Linked DNA regions of Homo sapiens: region 1 is linked to region 2. Evidence: fine-mapped expression QTL. A gene starts in region 2. The other region holds a variant in brackets. All regions are shown on one strand. Distances are between the middles of the regions. Region 1 overlaps CHMP4C (charged multivesicular body protein 4C). Region 2 holds the start of CHMP4C (charged multivesicular body protein 4C).

What was found. PIP is the estimated chance that this variant, and not a neighbour inherited with it, causes the effect. A credible set is the group of variants that fine-mapping cannot tell apart.
Region 1: its variant is the best candidate, but not a certain one, in a credible set for the expression of CHMP4C in sun-exposed skin (GTEx, PIP 0.53).

What each region holds. Positions count from the first base shown.
Region 1 is chr8:81,753,592-81,758,591 of GRCh38, reverse strand. It overlaps CHMP4C (charged multivesicular body protein 4C), which reads right to left. Exons shown (of 5, transcript NM_152284.4): 3 at 3,108-3,222; 4 at 297-450; 5 at 1-112. The coding sequence ends at 48. Among named protein-coding and RNA genes, the nearest start is that of CHMP4C, 24 kb to the right of the region's middle. The variant C/T (reference allele first, on the strand shown) is at 2,066.
Region 2 is chr8:81,729,147-81,734,675 of GRCh38, reverse strand. CHMP4C (charged multivesicular body protein 4C) reads right to left here and starts at 2,228. Exons shown (of 5, transcript NM_152284.4): 1 at 1,860-2,228. The coding sequence starts at 2,049.

The DNA of each region.
Region 1 (5,000 bases), 24 kb before region 2:
ATTTTATCTATAGCTCATTAATTTAGGTATCAAAAATGTGTTTTAGTTTAGGTAGCCCAAGCTGCCAATTGTTTGATATCATCATCCTCTTCTTCTGCCCTCTGGGAAGATGCTGGAACATAAAATAGATAAAAATTAGTAATTGGTGACATTCACACTTTCAGCATAGAAAACAGGTATGAATTACATATAAAAATGTGTTCAGTTTGAAATCAAAAACATGTGCTAAAAAGAATGGGCCTGGCTATCATTTTAGGCAACTATCTGACCACATGTAGTTGAGCTGGGTAACAGACCTGCTCGGGATCGACGTGCAGTGGACGACATGCCTGGTTTTCTATTTGGCTGTGCTGGGAGAGAAGAGGAAGGCACATTTGGAAGGCGGATATTTGTCATCTTCTTATTTAATTCCTCCTGTTCCAATTCTTCAAGTTCTGCCATCAACTCATCCTGAACACAGGAGAAAGGAAGAATTATGGAGTTAACGTTTCAAGACATGGGTTTCCTCAAACACAATAACAAGAACATCTGCTACCCAATTGATATGTGAGAACCCAGTGAAATGGAATATTTATTTTAAAACTAAGTCTTTTTTGCAACACTGAGCAATGATTAAAAAATGAATATTCTGGGTTGTGCAAATTTGTTGTAGTTAATCTTCTAATACTTCAGTAAACAGCCATTCAAGTAATTTGTGCTAGCTGAATATATAACCTCCCCACAGTTTCTGGGAAACTTACACCTTGTCTGTCATCTTTCCAATGTGTTCTTTTCTACTGTTTAGAATCCACAAAATGTTAACTGGTGGAAATAAATGTTTTTCTTTGGGCTAATGCGATTGAAAATAAAACAACAGGTATAGCAAAACCATAACGTACAGAAAGTAAAAGGAATTAAAGATACTATGGTTCTTTTATCAAATCACCAAAGCCAATATAAATTATGCTGTGCATTTGGGTTAAGAAAAGTTCAATTCAAGATAGGTATACTGTATTTCCTTCTTTTAGCAATAGTCCGAGAGAGCCTGGTTTAATCTTAAACTACTCTCTGTCCCAAAAACTTTTGAGAGACAAGGCTAGTTTGAGACCTTAAAAATGTAAGTCACCTTATGCCAATTCTGAGATGACTCAGATAGTTCAGATCTCACTGGCTCCATAAGTCCTGAAGTAGAGTCCAACCCCTCTCAGAGAGAATTTGGGAGTCACAACTGAACTTGTCATTGATGGAATTATGAGGTTGTCACTATTAGAAATGACTTGGGACACCTTATATTCAACCAAGTAGATTTTTCTTTCATGGATGAATAACGAATGAGAGAATTCATTCATTCATTATTCAACAAATTCATTGAGCACTCACTCCTGGGCAGATTTTGAACTCAGTGCTGGGATGCAAAGTTGAATCAACACTCCCTATATTCAAGGAGCTTACACTCAAATGTGGGGGGAAGGCACATAAACAAATAATTATCCAATATTAAAGTGAGAGTAATAACACTGTGGGGAAAGAGAGAAGATATTTAAGCCAACCACAACATTTGATTAAGTCAGTGGGTATCAGAATTGCAGCAAGCTAAAGATTGTCTGACCTCTATTAAATTCGCCTCATAAAAAGGGAAGAAAATATGAAGGTGTATAGCATTGGGCCGTATGAAATAGCACAGTCAATATAGTTGTGTACTTGATGGATCTCCACAGGCTATATGACTAAAATGGAACAGAATGAATACCCTGGCGTCCTATTTCTGCTCACAAAACAATCAGGGACAAATACCATAAATATAGTAATGGCAGAACAAGCTATCCTATGCCGAATGTATGCCCACAATTGCCAATAGTGCATCATCGTTATCAACAGCAGCAGAAACATATTAATGTTTTCTTTAGCAATATGGTAACAACAGAGTAATCATCTCCTCCATCATTTTCATCCTTTAGGTACCAAACACTAATTTGACCATTGAGAATAGAATTTTGGAACTTAAGATGTTTTGGAGATAATCCAGGGATCCAAAAATCTTCATTATCACAGATAAGAAAACTAACAGTCAGAAAAGTAAAAGAGA[C/T]TTACACAAAGTTTTTAACAAATGATAGAGCCCAGATGTCCACATAAGCCCAGATTCCTTTCCACCATATCATAATGTACTCACTAGATGCTTACTAGTCTACATCAGGAGTTGAAAAACTTTCTCTGTAAAGGCCCAAATAGTAATATTGCAGGATTTGCAGGCTGCATGTTTTCTTCTGCCCCATAGTCTCCTTTGTTGTTATTGTTTTCTACAACATTAAAATTGTGAAACCCATCCTGAGCTTTTGGGATATACAAACAGGTCACGGGAAGAATTTGGCCTGCAAGCCATATTTTTGCTGACCCCTTGTCTACACCATTTTTAAAAGGTATTGATACCCCATTCTCATTTTTGGGGATTCCATGGAACCAGGTCTTACTTGCTAAATGTGTTATTTTTAATATCACATAGATGCAGGAAGTTGGATTCTTTGCCATGCTAATCCAAGCTTTGGAAATGTTTCTAAATGTGTACTAGTCCTACTTGTGTGTGCTTTGAGCAGAACAATTGAAATTCACAGTGCAGACATCACCATTATAATTATAGTCTGTCTGTATTATTGGACTGATTAATCTAAATGGAATGTGTGTGTTAATAATGCCACTCCACATTTATTTGGTTTCATAGCCTGAGTAATAAACAGAGGCAGCCTAACCTCTAATTTAACAGCTACAGAGCATGATACGTCTGTTTCATGCAGAATGACGAAGTCTACTTTGTTTTGCCCAGATGTGCAAGCACTCAGTTCCTCGTAATGGGGCTGTTTAGGCTTCAACCACTAAAAGTCACTAACTTTACACAATCACATGCTGTTCTTTCCTTAATAGCTGAAAACTTAATCAGGCCACTGTTTGCCAAACTGTATTCATCTTTCCTTTAAATCAGAGGTACTAACACTTTATTTTTCTCTTAAGAGAAGTACCTTTCTTACAAATATCACTTGTTCTTTCAGTAGTAAGGGAACATGCCTACTATATATGACAGGAAGCTACTCTTTATAGCAGCCACAATCCTGCATTCTTCATATTGGGTTACGTACCTCATCAAAGTCATCACCAAAGCCAACCCGTTGAGAAAATGCTTCTGAGATTTCTTGGGCGATATCCTGTTGCTCTGTGATCTCTTGCATCAAATCATCTATTTTGTTCAGATCCCTGGGAAATCATATTTTGTTGAACATTTTAGAATTTTAACTTATAATTATGAATTTAGATATAATCCTATATAAAAAGTCAGTTCATTTAATATAAATTCTTAGTTATTTGAGTAGGATAAATATTCCTGATGATATTTATAAACTTTAAAGATAACTTATATTTTAAAAACTTAATAATCCATATATTATAAACATTAAGTAAATACCTATTACATTTGGAACTCACTAAAAATAAAAGTATTTTATAACTATCACTATTTGTAAACCCATTTTGAAATTTTGTCTGATAGGGCATATGACAAATTTAAATACATGCTGCTGTGTATCAACTCTGCAGGAAACACTACCACAGACCACCAGGACCACTGTAACTAGATGAGCTTTGGCAGCTTTTAGGAGCCCCTATCTGACAGCGGCCCTTTGTTGAAGCTAAACACTGGGTCTAGAGATCTATTTTTTGTAACACTTAGCAGCTCTGAAATCCTGGCTCCCCAAGGGTTTTTGCATAGCGGTGATGCCCTGAGAGGTTACTAAAGAGAGCAGGATTAAACCTATACAGCCCTCAGAAGAATTAGCAACTGCAGCAAATAAATCTAGGTAGCTACTTGCTCAGGATGGACAGCCACTTTGAAGACATTTTCCAACACCTGAGCTTCACTGGCTCCTAAACACCCGCCTAAGCATGTCGGTGTCTACATGCCAGGTTCTGGTATGTTTCTATAGTAGCTTATCTCTGAGTAATTCCTCCAACTCTGAAACTAGGCCAAACTGATTGGATATAAGAGAACTGACAATGTCCCTCATTATTAAGTAGCCTAAATACCAAAAGTTTGATTCCCAGTGGAAGTAATTTTTTTGTGAGTTTCCCTGACTCTGTAAGAGCTATTTTGACATATTTTCATGCAATAATCAAAAAGAATACTTTTACCTCCCTCTGACCATCCCTTATCTTTAAACCTTATTATTCTATTTATACTGAATATAAAACAAATATATTTTTAAAAGGAATATGAAAAAATGTATGGCTCAACTTTGGGCCTGGGAACAAATTTTTCTCAAATGTAATACAATGGTATGATGCTGCCAAGCTGCCTGGAGGGAAAGGCTGATTTTGTGACACATTTTTGTATCCAAAAGCAATAGAGAATTTTGACTCTGATAATGAATCTAATGTCTACCTGAAGCTGTCAAAATGGAGGCTGATTGTTAATGAATTATTCAGAAAAGAAAATGTTAGCAAAGTTGTCTTCACTGCCCCCAGCCACCACCTTTTTCACCTTTTCCCACTCTACAGAAATTTGTCTGCATCTCTTAGGCACTCATTGCTCTTGTGCATCCTTGCCCCAGGTTCCACTATCACATCCAATATCAGGAAAGGATCCGGTCCCAGACATATTTCCCAGTGTGAATGTAAAGCAAATTGTGAATATTAATTATTGAGTGCTCACTTTGTGCCAGGAACTATACTAAGTGCATTATATCTAGTATCTCATTGAATCTCACAATAACCACGAGGTAAGTAAGTACTATTATAATCTCTAATTTACATATAAGGAAACTGAATAAAGTATAATAAATTGCCCAAGGGATAGTCAGCAGTTGACCTGGGATTATAGCCCAGAAAATTTGACCCCCAAATCCATGCTCATGACTATTCTTCTGTGTCAGTGGTTCTCAGACATTGGTTAGCATCGGAATCACATGGACCCAAACACTTTGCAAGTTCAAGTAGCCTGGGCATCTGTGTTCTCTTTATTTATTCTCCAGGTGATTCTG
Region 2 (5,529 bases):
TCCTAGAAGGAAATGGTCAATTTTTTAGATTTTTAAAACCAACATCAGCCAGGTGCGGTGGCTCACACTTGTAATCCTAGCCCTTTGGGAGGCCAAGGCAGGTGGATCACCTGAGGTCAGGAGTTCGAGACCAGTCTTACCAACATGGAGAAACCCTGTCTCTATTAAAAATATAAAATTAGCTGGGTGTGGTGGCACATGCCTGTAATCCCAGCGACTCGGGAGGCTGAGGCAGGAGAATCGCTTGAACCTGGGCGGCAGAGGTTGCGGTGAGCCAAGATCGCGCCATTGCACTCCAGCCTGGGCAACAAGAGTGAAACTCTGTCTCAAAACAACAACAACCACCACCAATATTTGCTGAGCAACCATGGTAGACAAAGCTGTACACAGATCCAAATAGATGGCAAAGGGAAGAAAACCCTTGACAGACACTAAGCAAACGTCAGAGTGTGTATCAAACTGAAGAGGAAGGGCCAAGGAGCAAAATGACCAACAACATTTTTAGCAAGCCATAATGACATGGTCTTTCTTTAGAAATTGCCATTGCATAACTTCCCAGAATATTTTCAGACACAAAGTAAAAGTAGAAATCAGTACTTACCTCTAAAACAGGCTATAATATGCACAAAAGTTATATGCAATAAAACAGCCTTCTTATTGTTGGTGGTAAGTGGGCATAAATGTAGCTGGCACACTTTTACAGAAAGAGGCAGAGTTCTCAAGTTCATCTCCTTGAGACTTCATTCCTTTCCTGCATTAAACAATGGCAGCATCCTGTAGAGTGAGCCAAATCTTCCCAAGGCTTCATTATGACTAAAGAAGCCCAACTTGAGGGTGCAAATGTTTGGGTTTGGTGGTAAGCAGAGTCCGATATTGCCACTTCCTTTTCTGGGTCTGCCATGAACCCGGTGTTACAAGAGCAAATCACTTCAACTTCTCACTGAGTTTTTATCTGTGCCACAGGTGCTGTTTAGAGGTATTCCAATAGAAGGAGCAGTATACTGAAGAAATCAGTTAACTCTGGCAAAGAACAGGTGTTCAAGGTGCAACAGGAACACCAAGAATCATTACTGACTCAAAGTCTCTTGTGTGTGCCAAAAGTCAGTGATAGGAAATTTAATAATTAATTCCTCTACCTTTTTTTTTTTTAAGACTTCAACTGCCGAACATCCAGCTAAAGCTTTCCACAGCTGAGGAGCAAGGTAGACCACAACGTACTAGAATATCCTTTTCTGAAGATTTACGTGCAAGTTAAAATGTGTAATTTAATATACAAACATACAGCAGAAAACTTCATGGTTAGTGTTGGAGTCAGCAAGGCTGGCCTAGAAAAAGCTGGACCAGGAGCAAAATTTACAGGGGTGCGAAAACACTCAGTAATCAAGACAAATAATATTTTAATGCAATATTTTTAAAATTCAAAATTAATATTAAAAAATCCACGATGAACAAATCATCACATTATAAAAAATAATTTTAAATAAAGATGTGCTGCACATAACAACATAAGAGCTAGAGGCAAATGAAAAAAATCAATACCAATCTTGTCTTTATTTAAAATTTTGATATTTTCTTCATCATTTCTTTTTTGGCATTGGTTCTGAGTCCTTTAGGTATTGCATTAAAGTATTGTTCATCTTGATTACTGAGATTTTTGGCGGCCCCTTACATTTTGCCATCAGTGCCAGTGTCTAGCTCAACTCACCCTAGTCAGTGCCCTAAGAGTCAGTACCAGTTCCTAGAAAAGACTGCAGGAGCAAACCTGGCCACCTGGGGACCTCAGTGGTGTGGGCCGATTGTCCCCAAGGGAAAGGCTAGAGGCAGATGGGCTCCCGCCTGTGGGCCAGACCCCAGCCTACCTCGCTTATTCTGCGTGCCGTGCTTCTTGGCCAGGGCGATTTCTCTCTGGATTCGATTTTCCAGGTACTCTTGTTTCTTGCCCAGCATCTCCTCAGTCTCCCGAAGTCGGACCAGGGCCTCCTGGGGACTGGGAGCGGCTCGGCTCTTAGAAGAGCCGCCCCCTTTAAAGAACTTGCCCAACTTGCTCATTGCTGTGGAGTTCGGAGGGCCAGCGATCCCGGGGGCCTCTCGGGAGCTCCCCGGGGCCGCGCCGAGGGGACAGGTGAGCAAGGCAGTCCTCTCGGGGACCCAGACCGGAAAGGCGGCCCTCCTGGGAATCAACAAGTCGTCCTGGACAGGTGACACACACTCCAGGGCATTTCCTGGCTGCCAGTTCGGCCCCGCCCCGCTGCACAGCGGCTGGGCGGGGAGGCCACCGCTGGGACGTCGGCTGGCCGGCGCCACCCGGCCCTCTGGGAGTTGAGCGAGAGCAGAGAAAAGTTGAAAAGACCGACAAAGACTGTGGGAAGTTGGCTTTTATCCACACTAGGGACGGTCCCAGGAACGAGGAACTAGTTTGTGAATGGCTCAAAGAAAAGCAAACCGATGTCCAGGGGTCTTGTGCAGGACCTGAAAGTGTAAGTGCGCAAGACTGGATATGCAAAATGCTTTATTCCATGCGTGTCTTTTGTGTGTACGTGAGCATAGTGTTCCTGTATTCAGGCCTCTGTTCTTGTGAATAAGAATATTCAGATCTTTTCCTCTAAGTGTATGTCATGTAGGTATGAGTGTGTGGACACAAAGGCTTCCAGGATATTTGTCTGCCACTAGGATGCAGGTGTGTGGGCAAGCTCGGAGCAGCTGCTGCTACTGGGCTTGTTTCTGCATTTGGTAGTCCGGGCAGGTTGATGTGTGCCTGGATGCTAGTTGGCACAGTGTAGATTCTAGATCATCCTTACAGGACTTGAAGTGGGTGAAAGATGGTGGCCATCTCTTTTCCTAATGTCAGGACTTCTGGAGTGTGTTGGTGGTTGGATTCAACTCTATAACTAGGAATCCGAAGTTTTCTGAATGATCCTCAGTGTATCAAAAACCTTAAATGGGGCTGCCCTGGTGTTTGGCTGTATGTCAAATGCTATTACATAGATACTTAAGTAACAAAAAGTAGAGAATATCCTGGAGAAGAGAAACATTCTTTTGTTCATGCTCACTATCTCAGCCCATCTATTAGATCTGCTGGCAAATAATTTAGTAAGATGAAAGGACAGCCATATGTAATGCTTATAGATGATGCAATACTGCTGCAAACCTGTGTCAAGCACACTACAAAGAAGTGGAATTATCTGTGTTTTACTCTTCAACGATTGCCATGTGCTCTGCATAATATAGCCGTATTTGAGCAACGTTACCCAACATTACCAAAACCTATTTTTGATTGTTAGCCAGCCACTGTTTAAGAGAAAAAAAAAAAAAAAAAACACCCATTACTCTGACAAATTCACCTTGATACCCAAGATCAATAACACAATTTTGTCTGCAAGCATACAAACACAAAGCAGCAAGTTAATCTATTTATCCAACATTGGCATAGATAGCATAAAATTTTGCCAAAGAAATTGAACACTTCCATAGGAGGCTTACAGTAAGCATCTTCTAACACACAAATATGTGAACTTATCATTTCACAGTAACTGCAGCCAGCCACCTCCTATCATTTCCTGGCTGGCCATGTAAAGCATGTATGGTCTATAACACACATTTTGCTCTAATTTCATGTATAAGTTGTCGTAAGTATTGTTTTTCTTTATTATCTAAATATTTCATGAATAAGTTTTGGAGTGTATTTTCTTGATTAGATTTTTAAGGCCCTTGAGAGTTGAGAAGTAGCACATATTCTGCTATTGTTCCCGTTGCTTTTCAGTTTAACTAGCCTTTATTGAGTGTAAGGTACAGGGAATGCAAGTATAGTCTGCCCTCTAAGAGCTTACCTTCCAGTGACAGTAATAACAGCTACCATCTTTTGAGCACTGACTATGTGTCAGGCTTATCAATAAATATATGCTTATCACTAATCCTTACATAAACCCTGCAAAATAGGTATTGCTGTTTCTGTTAGACAGAAGAAGAACCCAAGGCTCAGTTGATAACTTAACCAAATTTAACAGGCAGCAAAAGTGAAAGAGATCTTTCTGTTTGAAAACGCATGGTCTTTTCACTATTTACATGATGGTATTTCCCTCTGTGCAACTTGGACTAGAGGAAAAACTCATTAAGTATTTGTTTAATTAAATAGCATGGGGTGAAGAGGTAATTATTAGGCATTATCTTTAAGGGATCCTCCAAGCATTATTGAATTCATGGAGGAGTGCATTTAAATAAGAACTTATCCAGAATACTAAGGCATTCTTTGGGGTTCGTTAGTTACTTTTTTTGTTGTGAGAACATTGGACAGTAGAACAGAGAGACAAAGTTATAACTGAGGAATTGCCTAATCCACACATCCATGGTTTCATTCAACTGATGCTTATTAGGTGTCTCTATGATCCAGGCATTGTGCTAGTGTTGGGGATACAGGTAAGAGTAAGAAACATTGTCTGTTCCAACAGAGCTTACAGCTTAGGGGAGAACACAGAAATTAAGCAAATTATCTCACAAACAATAAACTTCATAAGTTGGGGTTCTAATAAATTATATAGAGAAGTACAGGATCTATAAGAATAAATAGTAGAGGAACTTGACCTTGTCTTGGGGTCAGAGTGGCCTGAAAAAGTGATATTTAAGCTAGAATTTGAATGATGAATAGAAGCTACCTGGTTTTAGGGAAGGGAAATTTGTATTCCATTATAAGGAATTCCTTATTCATTTACCAATTTATTTATTCATTTATTCATCACTTTTAGATGTAGAGATTCAGCAGTGAATAAAAAGACAAAAATACATTCATTTTTGGAGCCTACTTTCTAGCTAAGGGAAGATGGACAATTAAGATAGCAATGTACTATGTGTACTATATTTTAAAAAACAAGGCAAAGAATGTTGGAGAATTAAAATTTTAAACAATATGTGCAAAAATCTTGAGTTTGAAGTACTAGGGGTTGAGAAAAGGTCACTGTCGCTGGCGCTTGGAGACAGAAGAGGAGAGTAGGAGAGTGTGGTGAGGTCCCTACAAAGGTAGACAGAGTCCAGATTACATAAGGTCCACATGATGTGCTAAGGATCCGCATTTTATTGAAAAAGCAAATGAAAATCAATCAGACATTAAAACAAAGAAGCTAGTCATTAATTTGTAATTCCATAGGAAAAAATAATCAATTTAACCAATTTAATGTGTAGCTCTTTCAGAAACACATGTGGTGTGCAAAGCAAGATACATTTAAATTAAAAATCATTTCCTTCCATTAATACATAAGCTCAAAGAGGAAAAGATAATACTTGCAAGCAAGTAAACCAACCAAATATATATTAGTGTTTAATCCAGCAGCAGGATGTAGAAAATAAGTTTTTAAATCACTGATTTAGAAGCCAAAAATAACACATTAATCTTCATTCAGTTCTCATCCTACAAATGTGGTTTCACAAAGAGTTCTTAGCATCTAGTGTATTTTTCATTTTCTGATCTCAATTGATCTCAGCTAATAAGAGGCTGTTGTTCAAAAGAATGATCTTGTTCAGGATAATTTACCATGATTA